Homo sapiens: one gene and its partners. The protein of the gene in region 1 purifies or fractionates together with the protein of each later gene. This does not show direct contact. Each region holds a gene or a part of one and is shown in the gene's direction. Other genes may lie near its edges. The genes, in order: ZBTB46, ZNF318, DDX23 and RGPD5.

Region 1 (5,544 bases):
CACCTGCCACCACGCCTGGCTAATTTTTTGTATTTTTAGTAGAGACGGGGTTTCACCGTGTTAGCCAGGATGGTCTCGATCTCCTGACCTCGTGATCCGCCTGCCTCGGCCTCCCAAAGTGCTGGGATTACAGGCGTGAGACACCGCGCCCGGCCCTCAGCAAGTTTCTACCAAGACAGGCAGCCCTAACCTGGCAGGTGGGGTTGGCCTGGGTCGTGGTGAGATCAAGGTTTGGTTCTTATGGGCAGGCCTCCTAAGCGATGACTGAGTGCCACTGTGTGTTCCGCCAGGCAGCTGCTGCTGCTCTCCATCCCTGCATGGACAACGGACATGGCAAACCATCAACACTGCTCTCCTTGGAGGCTGTCTAGGGAGGTCCAGACATCTTGGGAGAGACTGGGGTTCTCTTTTGCGCAAGAGAGCATGGGCAGGCTCTGCGGGAGGCCCTTGGGGCAGGCATCAGGGCTCTGGTCCTCCTTGCTTTGGCTCGGTGGGCCCGAGCTCTCCTGTCTCCCCAGGCCTCCTTTCCTCCGTGGGGTACAACTGGGCTCTGGGTGGGCAGGTGGGGGCTCCTGCAGGCAGTGCTGTTTTCTCCAAGGGGGATGCACGTGACCCGCCAGACCCTCCTGGAAGCCGCCTCTTCTCAGGGTGGTTGTGCTCAGCCCCCACTTCCCGAAGGTCGGTGAGGCTGGGGCTACAGTTTCAGACCAGAGCAGGCAGTGCCACCGAGAGGGTGCCGCGCGAGGTAGGCCGGCGACGGGGCTTCCTGGGCCGCAGTGCCATCCCGGCGACCTTGGCGAGGGGATGGGAACGGGGTGTCCGCACAGCCATTTCCAGGCGCCCGCGACGGCAGTAAGGGAGTGTCCCAGGCGTTGGTCCCGGCAGCCACACCTCGCTTCGCCTTTGCTCACTCATGGAGAGCCCTCAGCCGCCTCCCACTGCCGCTCCTGAATGCGCCTCACACATCCAGATTTGAAAGCACCCATAGGGCCGCCGCCTCCCACCTCCCGAGGAATCCGCTGCGCTGGGCCCGCAGGGAGGCAGGCTGGACGGCCCGGGCGCCTCCCCATTGGTTGGCCGGGCCGGGCTCGACTCCCTCGCGCGGCTGCCGGCCACAGGCTCACCTCCCTTCCCGCCGCGCCCGGGGAGAGGAAGCGAGGTGGCCTTTACCCCTGCGCAGGCCGGCCAGGAATGCGGGGCCGCGCTTCCCACTCTACCCGCCCGAGGGCTGAGGACGGCGGAGGCGAGAAGCGACGCGCAGAGTCCGGGCGCCGAGTGGTGGAGACGCGTCCCAGGCCGTTCGGATCGGGGCTGCACACGGGCTGGGGCGAGGCCCGGGCCGCTGGTTCCCGCCCCCTCCCGGAGCCATTCGTCCCCCGCAGACAACACGACGGGAGGGACCCACGCGCGGCCGCCGGTGCCCCTAGTCAGCCAAAAGCGAGCCCCACTGGCGGGCACCCCCACGAGGCCTGCGCCCGAGGTGCGCCGATCTCCGGGTGCGCCGAGGCCCCCGAGGGTAGGCGCGCGCGGTGCCCAGGCCCTTCCAGACCCCGCACCCCGGGCGGCCTTCCTTGGGGGCGCCTTTTCCGCACCGCGAGCGGCCCGCGTTGATGCCCGGCCGGGCTGGGGGAGTCGCCAAGTTTGCGAGACGCGCGCAGTGCAACCGCGCGTCAGGCGCGGGGACGGCCGGTGACCTGGGCACCCGCGCGCCCCCGAGGAACCTGCGCGTGGGCAGCGCCCGGTGCGCGGCCCGGGAAGGGAGCGGGTGCCCTCGCCGGGGTCGCCGCTCCCGTGGGGTGTTTCCAGGCTGCTCCGCGCTCGCGGGGCAAGGGCGCAGCGGGGGCCAGGGGGACCCCCGCGCCGCGCCGCCCCAGCCCCCCGCCAGCCCAGGGGAGGGGGCTTCCCACAATGCCCAGCGAGCTCCAGCCCGCACTTCCGCTGTCCGGCTGCCCGCGGGGGGGAGAACGGACCCCCGGCGCGGCCCCCTGCGACCCCGCGGCGCGGCGCCGGGAGCCGAGCGAGGGGCGGGGCCGGCGGCCGGGCCGGCGTGGGCGGGGCCCGGGGCGGTGGCCGCGGCCGGGGCGCGGCGCGGGCCAATCAGCGGCGGCCGGGCGCGCGCCGGGGGGCGGGGTCAGGGTCCGCGGGCGGGGCGCGCGCGCGCGGGCGGCGGGGGCCGCGGGGTTGGAGCGGGCGCGGGGGCGCGCGCCGGCCTGACGGACCGACGGACGGACGGACGGACCGAGCAGCCCCGGCGAGCGCGCAGCTCGGACCCGCCCGGACGCAGCGCCCTCCCGGCGGCGGCGGCGATCACCGGCGCCGGCCCGGCGGCCGCGGCGCCCGCCCTCGCCCGCGCCCCATGGGGTCACAGGTAAGCGGCGCCGGCTCATTGTCCGCGCGGCCGGGCGGGCGCATCGCGGCGGGGGCCGGGCCCGGAGCCGGGAGCCGGGAGCCGGGGCCGCTGCGAGCCCGGGCGCGCCCCCGCCGCCGGCCGCCCCGCCACGCCCCGCCCCGCGGGGGCGCCCTCCCGGGGGCCATCGGCGCTCCCAGCTGCGGCGCGGGCTCCGGGGGCGGCGGCGGAGACCCCGGCCCGGCCCCCGCGGGTGCCCCCCAGGCCGGCGGCGCGGGGCGGGGCGCGCGGGGGCGGCGCGGGTTCCCCGCGGGGCTGAGCGCGGAGGCGGCTGGGCTGCCCCGGCCCCTCGGCCCCCGGCACCTCCCGCCGCCGCCGCGCTCCCTCCCCGGCACCTCCGAGAGGGGAATTTTCCAGCTGGTAATTTCTGCTGCGTCAACGCCTGGCCCCGAGGCAGCCCGGGGGCGTCTTGGCGCCCCCCGCCCGCGCCCCCCGCCGGCACAGCCCAGCCGCACCCGGAGCCGCCCGCGCCGAGTTTGCCAAGAGTCGGAACTGCGGGAGGTGGGCGCGGGCGGGTCCCGGCGCCCTGAGGCCGGGGGGTCATTGTCTCCCCGGACGCCGGGCGCCGGCCTGGTCTCCATCTTAATCGCCGGCCGAACCGGGGCGCAGGGGCCTCGGGGCGGGGCGGCTCGGGGCGCGGAGGGCTCGGGGCGCGCGGGGCGGACGGGGCGCGCGGAGGAAGCGGGGTCCGCTGCGAGCCGCGTCTTTGTTTCTCTGTAAATAGACATGTCAGTTTCGCGGGGGAGCGCGAGCCGGTGTCTGACAACTCAATCCCTAAGGCAAACGGGGAATTCTCTGCGCCAGAGGGAGGGCTCCTGCTAGTTGGGGTTCCCCTGGCCCCGCTGACAGATTCACTGTTTGTAGGTTTAACGAAGCACACACAATAGGGCTGGACCGAGGAGCCAGGGTACAGACCAGATGGGGCGAAGAACGGATATTTTCTGACAGCGAAGAAATATAAACAAAAGAAAGTTTGAGATTCGCAGCGAATTTCCTCTCTCGCTTTCCGTGCTGCAATCTCAACGATGCATTTGGAGTGGATTACGGTGGCAAGATTGTGATCAGCATTGTTTAAAGAAATGCTAATTAGAAACGTGTTTAGCGCGCGGCCTGGGCGCAGACACCTGTGCGCCGAGAACTCACGGGCATTTTAATTGTATCGATTGTAGAATCTTTCATATTGGCTCTATTATCAGAGCTAACTTCCCGTTTGGGTAACAGACTGGATACATCTCTGCTGCTGGCACTCACGCTGCCTCTGCAAGGCACTATTTCACTCTACAAGAGTGGAAAATAGTTTGTTCATCAAAAGGAAATGTATAGAAGGGGTTTTTCACATGAATAATGAAGCAAGCGACAGTATTTATCAGAGTAGAACCTTTCTGCTCGGTGTGTTTTACGTGTTTCCAACTGGCACTTTTGGGCACCTCAGCCTGGTTACCACTGCAGAAAGGACTGAGGAGTGAGGGGAGTACTTGGGCACAAGTTACTGCAAATTTAGGTGGGAACTTACTGTGTCCCCTAAAAAGCTAGACATCTTCTCCGTAACTGAAGGAAGAGGGCTGGGGAGTTACTGTCAGATTTCTCCTTGGGGCGTGGAATGCACTCACTTTGAGGTGTTTAGAAATCCGAAATTCCGCCTTGCCTTCAGGCCAGCCTGGGGACAAGCATTTAATTAAGCCTCTCACTGACAGCATTATCCTGAACGTGAGAGTTTTCTTTTGCTTAGATGAGGTGATTTCTGTTCGGGTTTAGCTGTTTTGTGTGAGGATGAGTCGTTCTGTGCTCAGACCTGAGTTCCACTCCTGTTTCGGATGTTCGGGTTGGGTGGACTGTTACCTAAGGGCCCCCAGGTCAGTTCCACCAGGGCCAGGCTGACCCAGTGCCCTGCGTCCTCCGTCCCTCCCCAGCCCCTGGTGGTCACAGAGGTCAGGAGGTAAACCCTGTGAACGGTGAAACTGCTCCAAGGATTTAGAGGAAATGCCGTGGGGGGTACACAGTTGTTATTGTCAGACGATGTACTATTTACAAACACTGAATTAAATTTTAGCAGAGTGAACTTTCCAACACTGCCCTGACGTGGGGTTTTTAAATTAAGGGAAATTGGGCCACTCTGTCCCTGTGGCCTGTGTTTCTGGGACAGCGGTGCAGCTCCAGTGCTCTGTTCTCCATCAGAGGTCTTAGCCCGGCCTCTCAGAGCCCTGGAGACCCACTTCGTGCACGGTGCCTAGACGGCTCCACAGCCTGAGAACTGGAGCCGGTTCCTCCCACTGCCGTGACTGGTGCCCAGGCACCCGCTCCACTGCTGAGTTAAAGTGAGAGGAAAGGTCTAGAAGTCCTTGCCCCTTCCCATCCGCACACCCAGTGTCACGGCGTCTGCCGTGGTAGGTTCCCTGTCCTGGGGACTTCGTGTTCTTGCCTAAGTACCGTTCTTGTAAAAACTCAGGCTGCTGCTTCTCCCTGGGCTTTGCATGTTTTACCTGGAAGTCTCATGAGTGACCTTGAGTGATGGTTGATACTTCCCTCTACTGGTTTTTCTAGCAGATTTAAAAAAAAAAATACCCTTTGAATCTGTCCCCTCCCCTGGGGGAAAAATTCATCTTGTTGCTGCTAAGTTTGCTTGAATGGCCTGACTCCTAAGAATAAATGTTTGATTCAAAATCTCTATTAAGGCCACAGACTTATTCAGGGCTTTGAGAGGCCGCCGCCTTATCCTGATTGTGGTCCTCTTGCCGTCTGCCGCGGCTGCGGCGTAGCTGTGAACTTGTGCGGAGTGCTGGGGTCTTAGGCCATGGGGTCCATGGGAGGGATTTTCCTGCTTTTCTGTTATCACTTAGACCCTTTGAGTGCCTCACATATACAGACCCAGGCTTGGTGTTCTGGTTTGCTGGTGATGACAAAGGGCCCCAATGGTGTTGTTTATAGATGGAAAAGAGAAAGGATGTTTTTTAACAACCTAAAAGTGGTTCTGAGGCTGGGCGTGGTGGCTCACGCCTGTAATCCCAGTGCTTTGGGAGGCTGAGGCGGGCGGGCCGCTTGAGGCCAGGAGTTTGAGGCTGTAATGAACTATGATTGTGCCACTGGACTCCAGCCTGGGCAACAGAGCGAGGCCTTGTCTCTAAAACAATAAAATTAAG
Region 2 (4,865 bases), on another chromosome or scaffold:
TTTGGGAGGCCGAGGCAGGCGGATCACGAGGTCAGGAGATCGAGACCATGTTGGCTAACACGGTGAAACACCGTCTCTACTAAAAATACAATAATTAGTCGGGCTTGGTGGCGGGCACCTGTAGTCCCAGCTACTTGGGAGGCTGAGGCAGGAGAATGGCATGAACCTGGGAGGCGGAGCTTGCAGTGAGCCGAGATCGTGCCACTGCACTCCAGGCTGGGGACGACAGAGCAAGTCTCAAACAAAACAAAAAAAAAAGGACTAAGAGCAGAGAAGGGAGTTACAGTTTGTGTGCGTGTGTGTGTATGTAATATAGTGTTGCTCTGTCACCCGGGCTTGAGTGTAGTGGTGTGATCATAGCTCACTGCAGTCTCAAACTCCCACGCTCAAGCGATCCTCTCACCTCAGCATCCTGAGTAGCTGGGACTACAGGTGCGTACCAACATCCCAGCTGATTTTATTTTAAAAAAATGTTTTGGTGTGGGGAGGGATTTCACTATGTTGCCCAGGCTGGTCTCAAACTCCTGGCCTCAAGTGATTCTCCTGCCTCAGCCTCCCAAAATGCTGGGCTTACAGGCATAAGCTACCATGCCTGGCCCGGGGAGTTAAAATTTTTGAGAGTAGTCAGGGAAGGCCTCCTGGGAAGGTGATTTTTGAATAAAGATCTGAAGGAGGTGAGGGTGTGCTGTGCAAGCATCTGGAGGAAAAATGTAGTCAGATGATGTCACTATCCTGTGTAAAACCCTCCTATAACTGTTAATTGCACTAAGAATAAAATCCAAATTTCCCAACTGTGCTTTCTGCCTATCTTTTCCTCTTCTGTCACTTTGCTGCAGCCACACCGGCCGCTTTTCTGTTACTTAAAGTATACCAAGCTCTATACTGAGGTGGTTCTTTTCTTTGCCTGAAACATCTTTCTACCTGTTCTTTGCAAAGCTGACACCTCATTCTTCAGGCCTCAGGTTATCACCTGAGAAAAACCTTTTCTAACCATCCTATCTGAAGTAACTCCTTTTATGGTACCATGTTTTAATGACTATAGCACTTACCAGAAGAATTTTTTTTTTCTTTAAACTTGTTTTTGGCTTACCTCCTTCACTAGAAGTATGTACACTAGAAGTAGGGTTCTGAGAGCAGGGACTTTATTCACTTCTCTTTTCCCATGCCCAGTAAGAATGAGAGGTCACCGTTTAGGAGAGTTAGAGGTATGGGCTTATATCTCTAAGAAAATGATAATTTTTAAAAAGTGCTTTATTTTTGGTATAGTGTCTTACCATAACCATTTCTCACCTTGTTGAACCCCAACTTTGCAGGGTTGTCTTTTGTTTTTGAGACAAGGTCCTGCTCATTGCCCAGGCTGAAGTGCTGTGGTGCAGTCATGGCTCACTGCAGCCCTGACCTCCCAAGCTTAAGCTATCCTCCCACCTCAGCCACCTGAGTAGTTGGGACCACACCTGGCTAATTTTAAACTTTTTTTTATAGAGATGGAGTCTGTGTTGCCCAGACTGGTCTCACATTCTTGCCTGGGCCTATACACCTCAGCCTCCCAAAGTGTTGGGTATACAGGCATGAGCCACCATGCCTGGCTAACTTTGTAACTAGGGAGGAGAGTTTTTGGATGTAGGGATGTCTTGACCCTATTGACTAACCATATTATCCTTTACTTTTGTAGAGACGCTCTCCTGGTCTGTGTTCTGACTCTTTGGAAAAGAGCTTAAGGATCACTGTTGGCAATGACCACTTCTGTGTTAGCACACCAGAACGGCGACGGCTTAGTGATCGGCTGGGGTCACCAGTGGATAATCTGGAAGACATGGACAGGTAGGCATCACCTAAGGCAGGGCCTACTATACTAGTACTTGAAGGCAGAAATGTTGCTGTTTTCCGAATGATATATTTGAAAGGATGGTGCCAGCTCTAAAGTTATTTCCTATGCCACATGTCCAGTACAAAATAAAACGCTGGGATAGAATTTCTAAGTGGGAGGAGTATAATGATGTGTAGACTCTGTTGTTGAATAAATTGTATAGAAAAAAAGACTTTAAAAAGGTCATCTGAGTCTGACTAGAAAGAAGAGGCTGAGGGGACATAATCAGAGTCCCCCAAATGAAGAACAGTTGAGATGGTATAGATTCTAAAACAGTGAAACTATGAGCAGTCCCTTCTCCAAAGAAAAGTTCTGGACAAAATGGGAAGTCTTTTTAAAATGGTGTTATTTTTTAGTTTATCCAGGCTGAAACAGATTCAGAAAGGGTTAGGTAAGTTCATGTCTAATATATGTGTGTATGTGAAGTAGATAAAGTATTAATAGAAAGCTAGAGACCTTCAAAAATGTTTAAGTTCAGTTATTATTTTACAACTATTGAGTGCTGAGGAAGGGTAGATACACTCAAGAGAGTTGGATATAGACCTCAGGTACTAGGAACTTAACCATATATAGATTGTAAATAATCACATTAGGTGTTTTTCACCTCACAAAAGTCAAAGTATGGATGGGAGTTCAGGAAAGCACTCTTTCTCAGAGCTGAGACCATGACTGTTATGGTCTCTGCCCAGCACATTGGGAGTTTTGACAAATGATTAGCAGTAGCAATAAATCAATGTAATGTAATTTCAAACTGAGACTGTCGCTTGCCGTGTTGCACAGAGCATAGCTAGGCGGGTGGGGGAGAGCTGGGCAGGAAGTCTGAGGACCAGTTTTGCCGTTGGTAATACCTAAAAGTTCCATTGGCTGTGGATGCAGTGAAGCAAGGCAGAACAGTCTTTTTTTTTTTTTTTTTTCAGGCTTAATTCACTTTATATTTCTTGTATAAAAACCCTATGTTGTAGCCACAGCTGGAGCCTACGTCCTCTGCACAGAGACTCTGGTGTGTGTCTTGATGAGGTGGTCAGTGAATTCCTGATAGGGAGACTTGGTGAATCCTGTCTCCTTCCAGAGGTCGGGGGTCAGGTAGCTGTAGGTCTTAGAGATGGCATCAAAGGTGGCCTTGGCGAAGTTGCCCAGGGTGGCAGTGCAGCCCCTGGCTGAGGTGTAGCAGTCATCAATACCAGCCATCATGAGCAGCTTCTTGGGCACGGGCTGAGACGATGCCAGTGCCCTTGGGCGCAGGGATGAGGTGCACCAGCACAGAGCCGCAGTAGCCTGTCACCTTGCAAGGAACGGTGTGGGGCTTGTGGATCTTGTTCCCCCAGTAGCCTCTGTGCACAGGGAGAATGGAGAGCTTGGCCAGGATGATGGCCCCGCAGGTGGCAGTGGCCACCTCCTTGGAGCACTTAACACCCAGACCGACGTGGCCATTGTAGTCCCCGATGGCAACAAACGCCTTGAACCTTTTCAACTGGCCAGTGTGGGTCTGCTTCTGCACTGGCATAATCTTCAACACCTCATCCTTGAGAGAGGCCCCCAGGAAAAAGTCAGTGATCTCAGATTCCTTGATGGGCAGGAAGAAGAGGTAGTTCTCCAGGGACTTGATCTTTATGTCCTTAACCAAGCAGCCCAGCTTGGTGACAGGCATCCACTCCTTATCCTTGGCCTTGCCTCCACGAGCTCCGTGGCCTCAGCCCTGTCCACAGCTGCAACCCCAGCCCCTCCATGGAAGCCACCACGGTTTCCCATCCCAGGGCCCCCGGGGCCTCTGCCCCCGCCCCACCCCCTCCACCGACATCATCTGCCATTTGGTGTTTTCTCAGAGAAGAAGCAAGGCAAAATAGTCTTATGTCATATAACATTGAAGCTTCTAAAGGGCTTCAAGATATGTGACTGTATCACTTAATTGAGGCAATAGCCCTTGCTCTTCTGGCTGCTTCTGTTTGGGGAAATTATTGAGTAGGTAGTCTGGGTAGGTGGTACATAGTGTGATTGTCTTCATTCTTTGCTGAGGTTTTGAGTTAGCTTCAGCAGTTCTTCTTAGGCCTAGGATGTCACTTCCCCTTTGCATAAACTTTGTTATGCACATGTGCTTCAGATAGAACTAATTATATTTTTAAATTACAAAAATTAAAATTTTTCCTCTTAAGGAGTTTGGGGCAGCAGTCTTCTTTGTAGAATCATGTGTTTCAGAGGCACAGGTCTACTTTAGAGAAAGTGAGATTAAGGTTCTAAACAAAGATACAAGGCCATTTAAAAAATACTGTTGCCCCCTACACATTTCTCTTCTTTCCCTTTTGTTCAGTATGGTTTGTGTGGATAATTACTGTCCACTAAAACCAGGCCACAGGACCATTGGCATACTCAGGTTGTCTCCTGACAGTGAGTCTAGTCTTCAACCAATGATACAGGCCATTTATATCCTTTGTATGTAGATGTTTGGGCCTGGCGCAGTGGCTCATACCTGTAATCCCAGCACTTTGGGAGGCTGAGGTGGGCCAATCACTTGAGGTCAGGAGTTCGAGACCATCCTGGCCAACATGATGAGATCCTGTCTCTACCAAAAATACAAAAATTACCCAGTGGTGGCGCATGCCTGTAGTCTTAGCTACTCCAGAGGCTGAGGCAGGAGAAGCTTGAACCTGGGAGGCAGAGTTTGCAGTGAGCCCAGATTGTGCCACTGCACAGAACAAGACTCTGTCTCAAAAAAAAAAAAAAAAAAAAAAAGACGTGTATGTAGATGTTTATTTTTTAAAAATTCATTTATTTTTTTATTTTTATTTATTTATTTTTTGAGACAGAGTCTTGCACTGTTGCCTGGCTGGAGTGCAATGCTGCAATCTCGGCTCACTGCAACCTCCGCCTCCCAGGTTCTAGCAATTCTCCTGCCTCAGCCTCCTGAGTAGCTGGGATTACAGGTGCGGACTACCATGCCAGGCTAATTTTTTGTATTTTTAGTAGAGATGCGGTTTCTTTGGCCAGGCTGGTCTCGAACTGA
Region 3 (4,865 bases), on another chromosome or scaffold:
TTCCCAGTAGGGGCGGCCGGGCAGAGGCGCCCCTCACCTCCTGGACGGGGCGGCTGGCCGGGCGGGGGGCTGACCCCCCCACCTCCCTCCCGGACGGGGCGGCTGGCCGGGCAGAGGGGCTCCTCACTTCCCAGTAGGGGCGGCCGGGCAGAGGCGCCCCTCACCTCCTGGACGGGGCGGCTGGCCGGGCGGGGGGCTGACCCCCCCACCTCCCTCCCGGACGGGGCGGCTGGCCGGGCGGGGGGCTGACCCCCCCACCTTCCTCCCGGACGGGGTGGCTGGCCGGGCGGGGGGCTGACCCCCCTACCTCCCTCCCGGATGGGGCGGCTGGCCGGGCGGGGGGCTGACCTCCCCCACCTCCTTCCCGGACGGGGCGGCTGACTGGGCAGAGAGGCTCCTCACTTCCCAGTAGGGGCGGCCGGGCAGAGGCGCCCCTCACCTCCCGGACAGGGCGGCTGGCCGGGCCGGGGGCTGACCCCCCCACCTCCCTCCCGGATGGGCGGCTGGCCGGGTGGGGGGATGACCCCCCCACCTCCCTCCTGGACGGGGCGGCTGGCCGGGTGGGGAGCTAACCCCCCCCACCTCCCTCCCGGACGGGGTGGCTGCCGGGCGGAGACGCTCCTCACTTCCCAGACGGGGTGGCTGCCAGGCGGAGGGGCTCCTCACTTCTCAGACGATGTGGCTGCCGGGCGGAGGGGCTCCTCACTTCTCAGACGGGGCGGTTGTCAGGCAGAGGGTCTCCTCACTTCTCAGACGGGGCGGCCGGGCAGAGACGCTCCTCACATCCCAGACGGGGCGGCAGGGCAGAGGCGCTCCCCACATCTCAGACGATGGGCGGCCTGGCAGAGACGCTCCTCACTTCCTAGATGGGATGGCGGCCGGGCAGAGGCTGCAATCTCGGCACTTTGGGGGGCCAAGGCAGGCAGCTGGGAGGTGGAGGTTGTAGCGAGCCAAGATCACGCCACTGCACTCCAGCCTGGGCACCATTGAGCACTGAGTGAACGCGACTCCGTGTGCCATCCCGGCACCTCGGGAGGCCGAGGCTGGCGGATCACTCGCGGTCAGGAGCTGGAGACCAGCCCGGCCAACACAGCGAAACCCCGTCTCCACCAAAAAAATACGAAAACCAGTCAGGCGTGGCGGCGCACGCCTGCAATCGCAGGCACTCGGCAGGCTGAGGCACGAGAATCAGGCAGGGAGGTTGCAGTGAGCCGAGATGGCAGCAGTACGGTCCAGCTTTGGCTCAGCATCAGAGGGAGACCATGGAAAGAGAGGGAGAGGGAGACCGTGGGGAGAGGGGAGAGGGGAGAGGGAGCCTGAAGCTTTTCTATCTATGGATTCTTCTCTGAATCTTTGGGGGTTTTTTTGAGATGGAGTTTTTGTTCTGTTGCCCAGGCTGGAGTGCAATGGCACGATCTCGGCTCACTGCAACCTCTGCCTCTTGGGTTCAGGCAATTTTCCTGCCTCAGCCTCCCAAGTAGCTGGGAATACAGGCATGCGCCACCATGCCTGGCTAATTTTTGTATTTTTAGTAGAGACAGGGTTTCTCCATGTTGGCCAGGCTGGTCTCGAACTCTTGACCTTAGGTGATCCGGCCACCTCGGCCTCTCAAAGTGCTGGGATTACAGGCGTGAGCCATTGTGCCTGGCCTGTATACAGAGTTCTTATCAGGCCCTGAAAGTATAGGTTAGAATTCAAGGCAGAGGACAGAATGCTCCTAACAGAAACTCAGTGGGGTTGTTTGAATTATCTTGTAGATTAAGCTTAGAGCAGGTATGGGGAAAGGATTGTTGGGATTGATAGGAATGAAAAATGATGAGGGAATATAGATAGCAGTATCTTCTTGGCTTGTGGTGGTGGCCATGTAGGCTAAATTCATTGTATATTAAAGAGTTAAGGAGGGCCAGGCGCTGTGGCTCACACCTGTAATCCTAGCACTTTGGGTGGCCGAGGTGGATGTATCACCTGAGGTCAAGAGTTCGAGACCAGCCTGGCCAACATGATGAAACCTCGTCTCTACTAAAAATATAAAAATTAGCCAGTGGTGGCAGTACTCGCCTGTAGTCCCAGCTACTCAGGAGGCTGAGGCAGGAAAATTTCTTGAACCCAGGAGGCGGAGGTTGCAGTGAGCTGAGATCACACCATTGCACTCCAGCCTGGGCGACAGAGTGAGACTGTGTCTCAAAAAAAAAAAAAAAAAAAATTTTTCTCTAAACAACCACACCTGGCTAATTTTTGTGTTTTTACTAGAGACAGGGTTTTGCCATGTTGGCCAGGCTGGTCTTGAACTCCTGACCTCAGGTAACCCACCTGTCTTAGCCTCCCAAAGTGCTGGGATTATAGGCATGAGACACCGCGCCTGGCCTAGGGGAAATATTTTTGACATCAGTAGTAAAGTCCCACTTCCCAAAAGAGATTAGTCTCAAAAGGAGATTTGGGTAGAAAGGGGCCAAGACAGGGCCATAATTAGGTTTCAGAGCTGGCAGAATGACCATGCCTGCTAAGAGAGTTTCAAGACATGATAGATGACCATGGGCCAGTCTTGTTGAGTCATGGGGAAACTTCCATTCTCTTTTCGGGGCTCAACTTGAACCTCATCCAGGCACTGAAGTAAGAGTGATGTGGACCTTGTTCCTTTTCCTCAAAGCTTATCTCCTGGTCGAGGAAAAGACTTTAAATCTCGGAAGGACAGAGACTCTAAGAAGGATGAAGAGGATGAACATGGTGATAAGAAGCCTAAGGTAAAGGAGAGGAAGGATATTTTTCATCTTCAACTCGTGCGTTGCTTTGTTGATCTTTAAAGGGAGAGAGCCTTTATAGACTAAAGTTCTGTTTTATCTTCAGGCCCAGCCATTATCCCTGGAGGAGCTTCTGGCCAAGAAAAAGGCTGAGGAAGAAGCTGAGGCTAAGGTAAGTACTTGAGGGTCTTCATTCATCGGCTCAGGCTGCCATAACACAATACCACAGACTGGGTGACTTCAACGACAGAAGTTAATTTTCTCACAGTTCTGGAGGCTGGAAGTCTGAGAGCGGAGTGTCAGCAGGGTTATTTCTTCTGAGGTCTCTCTCCTTGGCTTATAAGGCTGTCTTCTTCCTCAGCTCTTCACATGGTCCTCCCTCTGTACACATGTACCCCTTGTGTTGGATTAGGGCTCACCCTAAAAGGCCCTTTTTTTTTTTTTTTTTTTTTTTTTTGAGACAGAGTCTCACTCTGTCGCCCAGGATGGAGTACAGTGGCATGATATCGGCTCACTTCAACCTCCACCTCCCAGGCTGAAGCAATCCTCCCACCTCAGCCTCCCAAGTATCTGGGACTACAGGTGCGTGCCACAACGTCCAGCTAATTTTTGTATTTTTTGTAGAGTCCAGATTTCACCACGTTGTCCAGGCTGGTCTCGAACCCCTGGGCTCAAGTGATCTGCCCTCCTTGGCCTCACAAAGTGCTGGGATTACAGGCGTGAGCCACTGTGCCCAGCCTAATGGGCTCATTTTAACTTAATCACCTCTTTACATGTCCTGTCTCCACATATAGTCAAATTCTGAGGTACTAGGAGTTAGGGCTTCCACATAGGAATTTTGAGCTGGGTACAGTGGCTCACACCTGTAATCCCAATACTTTGGAAGGCCAAGATGGGAGGATCACTTGAGCCAGGGATTTTTAGACCAGCCTAGGCAACATGGTGAAAACCCATCTCTATAAAATTTTAAAAATTAGCCATCTGTGGTAGCATGCGCCTGTAGTCCCAGCTACTCAGGAGGCTGAGGCAAGGATATTGCTTGAGCCCAGGAGGTTGAAGCTGCAGTGAGCCATGATGACACCACTGTACTGCAGCTTGGGCAACAGAGCGAGAGTCTGTCTCAAAAAATATATATAACACATGCATTGTTTGTTTGTTTGTTTGAGATGGAGTCTCGCCCCGTTGCCCAGGCTGGAGTGCAGTGGCATGATCTCGGCTCACTGCAACCTCTGCCTCCCAGGTTCAAGCAATTCTCCTGCCTCAGCCTCCTGAGTAGCTGGGATTACAGGCACGTGCCACCATGCCTGGCTAATTTTTTGTATTTTTTTAGTAGAGATAGGGTTTCACTGTGCTGGCCAGGCTTGTCTTGAACTCCTGACCTCGTGATCCGCCCATCTCGGCCTCCCAAAGTGCTAGGATTACAGGCACAAGCCACCGCACTCGGCCACATTTTTTTTTTTTTTTTAAAGGTAAGGTCTTGCTCGTTTGCCCAGGCTAAAGTACAGTGGTGCAATCACAGCTCACTGTAACCTCAAACTCCTGGGCTCATATGATTTTCCTGCCTCAGCCTCCTGAGTAGCTGGGACTATATGCACATGCCATCATGTCTGGCTGAGTTTTTTTATTTTTGTAGAAACAAGGTCTGCTATGTTGCCCAGGCTGGTCTTGAACTCATGGCCTCAAGCGGTCCTCCCATCTAGGTCTCATAAAACACTGGGATTACAGGCATGTGCCACCACGTCCAGCCTGAAAAAACATATGAATTCTGTAGGGGACATAGTTCAGTCCATAACCGAGTCCAAGGCCTATTTGTGTTTTCCTCAACAGGCTTAATGCCTGAGCAAATACTTTTGGGTTCCCTGCCATCTCCCCATCAGTGATGTGATTGTACCCTGCTCCCAGATCCTTTGTTGACAGTTCCAATCTCTTTTGTAGCCCAAGTTCCTCTCTAAAGCAGAACGAGAGGCTGAAGCTCTAAAGCGACGGCAGCAGGAGGTGGAAGAGCGGCAGAGGATGCTTGAAGAAGAGAGGAAGAAAAGGAAACAGTTCCAAGACTTGGGCAGGAAGATGTTGGGTTTGTTATTCTACCCTGTGTAGCCCCTAGATGGAAGAGGAAAGAGTGGGATG
Region 4 (4,865 bases), on another chromosome or scaffold:
GGTTCTTTGCGAAATGCAGATTCAGAAATAAAACATTCTACACCGTCTCCTACCAAATATTCACTATCACCAAGTAAAAGTTACAAGGTAAACAGGAAAGAATGGAATCATTTCATTGTGAAATTGTTTCTGTTCTAAGTGTTTTAAATGCTGTTTTGTTATTTTTATTTTTTTTTTCAGTATTCTCCCGAAACACCACCTCGATGGACAGAAGATCGGAATTCTTTACTGAATATGATTTGCCAACAAGTAGAGGCCATTAAGGTAAGTCACTTAATTTCTCTAGCTGTACTTTTTATTCCAAGATTCCTTCCCTGGCTACTCTCTCACTTTTTTTCTGAAGCTGGTCAGAATGTCCCCTTGCCATCCAAATAGTATGGCAAGGGGACATTTTGGTCTTTTTTTTTTTTTTTTAAGACAAGGGTCTTGTTCTGTTGTGCAGGCTGGAGTACAGTGGTATGATCACAGCTTACTGCGGCTTCAACCTCCTAGCTCAAGAGAGCCTCTTGGCTCAGCCTGCCACGAAGCCAGGACTACAGACAGTCACATGCCACCAGGCCCAGCTAATTGTTGTATTTTTTGTAGAGATGGGATTTTGCCATGTTGCCCAGGGTGGCCTTGAACTCCTGGCTCAAACAATCCTCCTGCTTCAGCCTCCCAAAGTGCTGGGATTGCAGGTGTGAGCCACTGTGCCCAGCCTACATACCTCGGTCTTGACCCTTTACCATATTTTGTTTTGTTTTGTTTTGAGATGGAGTCTCACTCTGTTGCCCAGTCTGGAGTGCAATGGTGTGATCTTGGCTCACTGCAACCTCCACCTCCCAGGTTCAAGTGACTCTCCTGCCTCAGCCTCCCGAGTAGCTGGGATTACAGGCACCCGCCACCAGGCCCAGCTAATTTTTGTATTTTTAGTAGACACAGAGTTTCACCATGTTGGCCAGGCTGGTTTTGAACTTCTGACCTCAGGTGATCTGCCCACCTTGGCCTCCCAAAGTGCTGGGATTACAGGTGTAAACCACCGCACCCAGCCCTTTACCATATTTTTGAAAGTACTTTATGTGTCTCTCTCCTCATCTTCCACAAAATTTGAGACCTTCAAAGGTAGAAACTGTTTTATTTAAAATATAAGAGTTCCTGACACAGAGAAGGTTCCCGAGTGATTGAAGTGCTACAATGTACTAATCATACTCTGGTCTATGAGTTCATTCCCAGATTAGCTGTGGATTACATGTGTTTCAAATGTATAGCTAGGAATCGAAAAGTGGTCTGAGCTTCAAAAAGTCTTACTATATTTTAATACTTCCATATGAATTTGACTTAATTATGTAAGGAAATAGTTATGTATATATATCTTATTTTAACAATAGGGTTCAAAGGAGCTTGACTTTTTTGGAATTGGAAATAAAAGTAGGTTCTTTCATGTTTATCAAGCAAGAACTAAATTACTCATACTGCTAAAGTTACATCAAGGATATGCTGATGTGTGGCGATTATTACAGTGTGATCAGCAGCATTTGCAAATTAAGAGAATACTATTTGGTGGGGAAGACATTTTTGAATTTGCACAAAAATTTTGAATGTTAATTCTGTGTAGTCGTGGCCTATGACAATTACATACAATTTTGACTTAACATACAGGTTTCAGGCTCCCAACATTGTATTCTGTGGAAGTATAGTGGAGCACTAGTCCATGAGCTTGAAAAGCTTGGTACTAGTACTGACTCTGCCATTAATTAATGATCTTGGGCCAGTCACTTCCTTTGTGACTGTTTGGCTTCTTATCTTTAAAATGAGAGAATTATTGAAGCCAGTTCTCATCACACTGAATGTTAAAAATTACAGTTACAGCAGTGATTGCAAATTCAAAGCTCTGGTGCGGATACCAACAGTGACTATAAAGTTTTCTAGGTGATTCCACTAGTTTCTTATTTCTTGGATGTGTATGTGTAGCATCTGGACTAGGCACTGTAGATGGATGAATGGGGGAAATTTTATTTAGCTTGAAAATTGAGATAGTTTTGGACCTCATGGTTAGGTCTTTCTGGGAAATTTTTAATTGAAACACTTGTAGAAACAGAAAGCAGACATGCTAGATCTGTCCCTGACCTCACTTGTTAGAACTGATCGGATTCCTGGGCTGATACAGAGAAGTTTGAAACTTTTCAAAATTTACCTGTTTTCTGATACCACTACAATTTCTTTGGAAAAAGAATTTCCTGTTAAGTGTCTGTTTTGTAAGGGGACATTTTGTAGGTTCTAGGGTGTTGGGTATGGTGCTGTCATTTAGTTTTCTTCAGCAGAGATCAAGTAGCCACATAGCTACACTAGACGGCATTGGATCTATCTGCCATCTTGTCAAGGCAGCAGAGTTGTGTTAAGAAAACATTTTTGGAGTCAGATGTGTTTCAAATTCCAGCTGTTATTCCCTGCATCCGTTTCTCTCATTTTAAGATAGGAGCTAATATTGTTTACCTAACAGTGTAGATGGTGTAAAAATTAAGAGTTTAAGTGCATTGGACGTATTATTATATACATAATAAATTCTCTGCAGCTACTACTTTTTTCCCTTTCCTGGTGGAGCATTTGAACATCACCTTGAGAATTAGTTGTATTTTGTTTGAACACAGGGTTAAGTGAAAAGCTAATTTGGGGAGGTGATTTGGAATGTCAGGTAGTCCAGGTTGCAGTGTAGAAAGAACACACTGAAAGGATGGTCAGTGTAATGTTAGAGGACTGTGAAAGTTGGGGAAAGAAGTTTAGTTTGTAGGTACTTGTTTTTTTGAGCAGGGAATTGTCTTGGCTGGAGGTGAACGTCAGAAAGGTTAATGTAGGCAAGTGTAGAATGGAAATGAAGGTGTGATCATTTAGGAGGTTATTTGTTTAGGTGAGAGAGTTAATGAATTAGGTTTTGTATTAACGAATGAAAATGGGAGCAGATAAATTTTTAACAAATTAAGAATCATATTTTAAAATCAGCACCAGGTACCTAGAACTCTTTGGCAAATAGAAACTTTCAAAAGATATAATCAGGTCCGGGCGTGGTGGGTCACACCTATAATCCCAGCACTTTGGGAGGCTGAGGTGGTGGATCACTTGAGGTCAGGAGTTCAAGACTAGCCTGGCAAACATGGTGAAACCCCATCTCTACTATTATACCAAAAATTAGCCGGGCGTGCTGGCTGACGCCTGTAATCCCAGCTACTCGGGAGGCTGAGGTGGGAGAATTGCTTGAGCCCAGGAGGTGGAGGTTGCGGTGAGCCAAGATTGTGCCATTGCACTCCAGCCTGGACGACAGATCGAGACACCATCTCAAAAAAGAAAAAAAGAAAAAATCAGTTATTTAAATTTAAAAGAGTAAGTTTCCCCAGCACTGTTTCTGGCATGATATAATTAAATGATTAAAATTATTTGATTTTTTTTTTCTTCCAATAGAAAGAAATGCAGGAGTTGAAACTAAATAGCAGTAAGTCAGCATCCCGTCATCGTTGGCCCACAGAGAATTATGGACCAGACTCGGTGCCTGATGGATATCAGGGGTCACAGACATTTCATGGGGCTCCACTAACAGGTGAGCTGGCAAGTGGATAATCGCATATTTTAGTAAAACTACTTTACTTCCCTCTTTTAAGTAGATAACGTGTGAAATCACCTTGTTTATATATGTTTGTTAATATACATGTCAACGTCTGTTTATATGTGACTTCAAAAGCTGTATTAGGTGTTACGGAGATTTTTATAATCCCAAGCAGAAAAAACGAGCCGTATGTGATCACGTGTATATAAAGGCTTAAAGAACACTTAATCCACACCTCAGATGAGCTGAGATGAGATTATTCCTTAAATTGCAAAATGTTATTGAATAGAGTTATGCACTAAGAAATGCTTAATTAAGAACCTACACCTCTGGGGAATTATTTTGATGATAATGATGAGAGGCAGGACGTTATATAGGAAATCTTACTTAATTTGAAATATTATGGTTATATAAAGAAAGAAAAGGAGTTTGGACCTGAATCATACTGGGTTTTTAAGTTCTGCTCTATCACTTACTATAATAGCTGTGTAAGTTAACCTGTCTGAAATGTGGAGATAATACTTGCCTTACATAATTACTATGAGCATTTGTGTATGTGCAGGTGGGCGTGGGTGTGTATCAGACATTTATTAGAGTATACAGTAAACAGTTAATGAACTAAGGTTACTAATAGTGTTTACTGTGGGTTGGCTGTGTGCAAAAGTGCTGTGTGAATGTAATTTGATTTAATTACAGTAACTTAGAATGGCCGGTACCATTATTAATCCCTTTTTTATAAATAAGGAAATGGATAAAGAAAGGTTAGGTAACTTACTCATTATTATACAGCTAGTTATTGATAGAGCCGAGATTCACACTCCAGTGGTGTAACTCCAAAGCACTTGCCAGTATAATACATTGCTCCCAGGCAGCCAGAAATAACAAAATTGTTCCTTTTACGTACGACAGACTTCTGAAATGGTAGTAGTAGTGCCCTTTTTTTTTTTCTCTTTTTAGCCCAGGAAAGATTTAGAAAAAAATCTAGTTTAGATGAGCACATTTGTGTGATGGTTCCTATAGTTAAGGCAACCCCACTAGCCTTTTGTGATAGTATCTTCTCAACACAAGCAAAATAACAGAAAATCTTTGTGAAGTCAAGCTTATTAAATGTCGTAAGTCATAGATAAGTATATGAAATGTCTAACGTTCAAACCTTGTTTTCTTAAAACCTTACACATCATATAGGTCCTTGTAAGAGGATAAACAAACCGGCTAGCCTTTCCTGGGGCTTTTTTAGTGATGTGTGCAGTCAGTTATTTGGTGCCTTGTGGGTCATGATTTCCATTTCTTC

The links.
Region 2: the proteins of ZBTB46 (region 1) and ZNF318 purify together in Homo sapiens (affinity purification with mass spectrometry, with the first as the bait; one large-scale study listed by BioGRID). This does not show direct contact.
Region 3: the proteins of ZBTB46 (region 1) and DDX23 purify together in Homo sapiens (affinity purification with mass spectrometry, with the first as the bait; one large-scale study listed by BioGRID). This does not show direct contact.
Region 4: the proteins of ZBTB46 (region 1) and RGPD5 purify together in Homo sapiens (affinity purification with mass spectrometry, with the first as the bait; one large-scale study listed by BioGRID). This does not show direct contact.

What each region holds. Positions count from the first base shown.
Region 1 is NC_000020.11:63,827,921-63,833,464, reverse strand, and holds the start of ZBTB46 (zinc finger and BTB domain-containing protein 46), read left to right. Parts: upstream 1-2,200; 5' UTR 2,201-2,368; intron 2,369-2,634; exon of another isoform or gene 2,635-2,767; intron 2,768-2,827; exon of another isoform or gene 2,828-2,908; intron 2,909-5,544. UniProt on the Homo sapiens protein: Functions as a transcriptional repressor for PRDM1.
Region 2 is NC_000006.12:43,362,248-43,367,112, reverse strand, and holds part of ZNF318 (zinc finger protein 318), read left to right. Parts: intron 1-1,672; coding exon 1,673-1,821; intron 1,822-2,893; exon of another isoform or gene 2,894-3,698; intron 3,699-4,865.
Region 3 is NC_000012.12:48,837,889-48,842,753, reverse strand, and holds part of DDX23 (probable ATP-dependent RNA helicase DDX23), read left to right. Parts: intron 1-2,647; coding exon 2,648-2,741; intron 2,742-2,844; coding exon 2,845-2,910; intron 2,911-4,673; coding exon 4,674-4,812; intron 4,813-4,865. UniProt on the Homo sapiens protein: Involved in pre-mRNA splicing and its phosphorylated form (by SRPK2) is required for spliceosomal B complex formation.
Region 4 is NC_000002.12:109,827,885-109,832,749, forward strand, and holds part of RGPD5 (RANBP2-like and GRIP domain-containing protein 5/6), read left to right. Parts: coding exon 1-87; intron 88-180; coding exon 181-264; intron 265-3,432; coding exon 3,433-3,568; intron 3,569-4,865.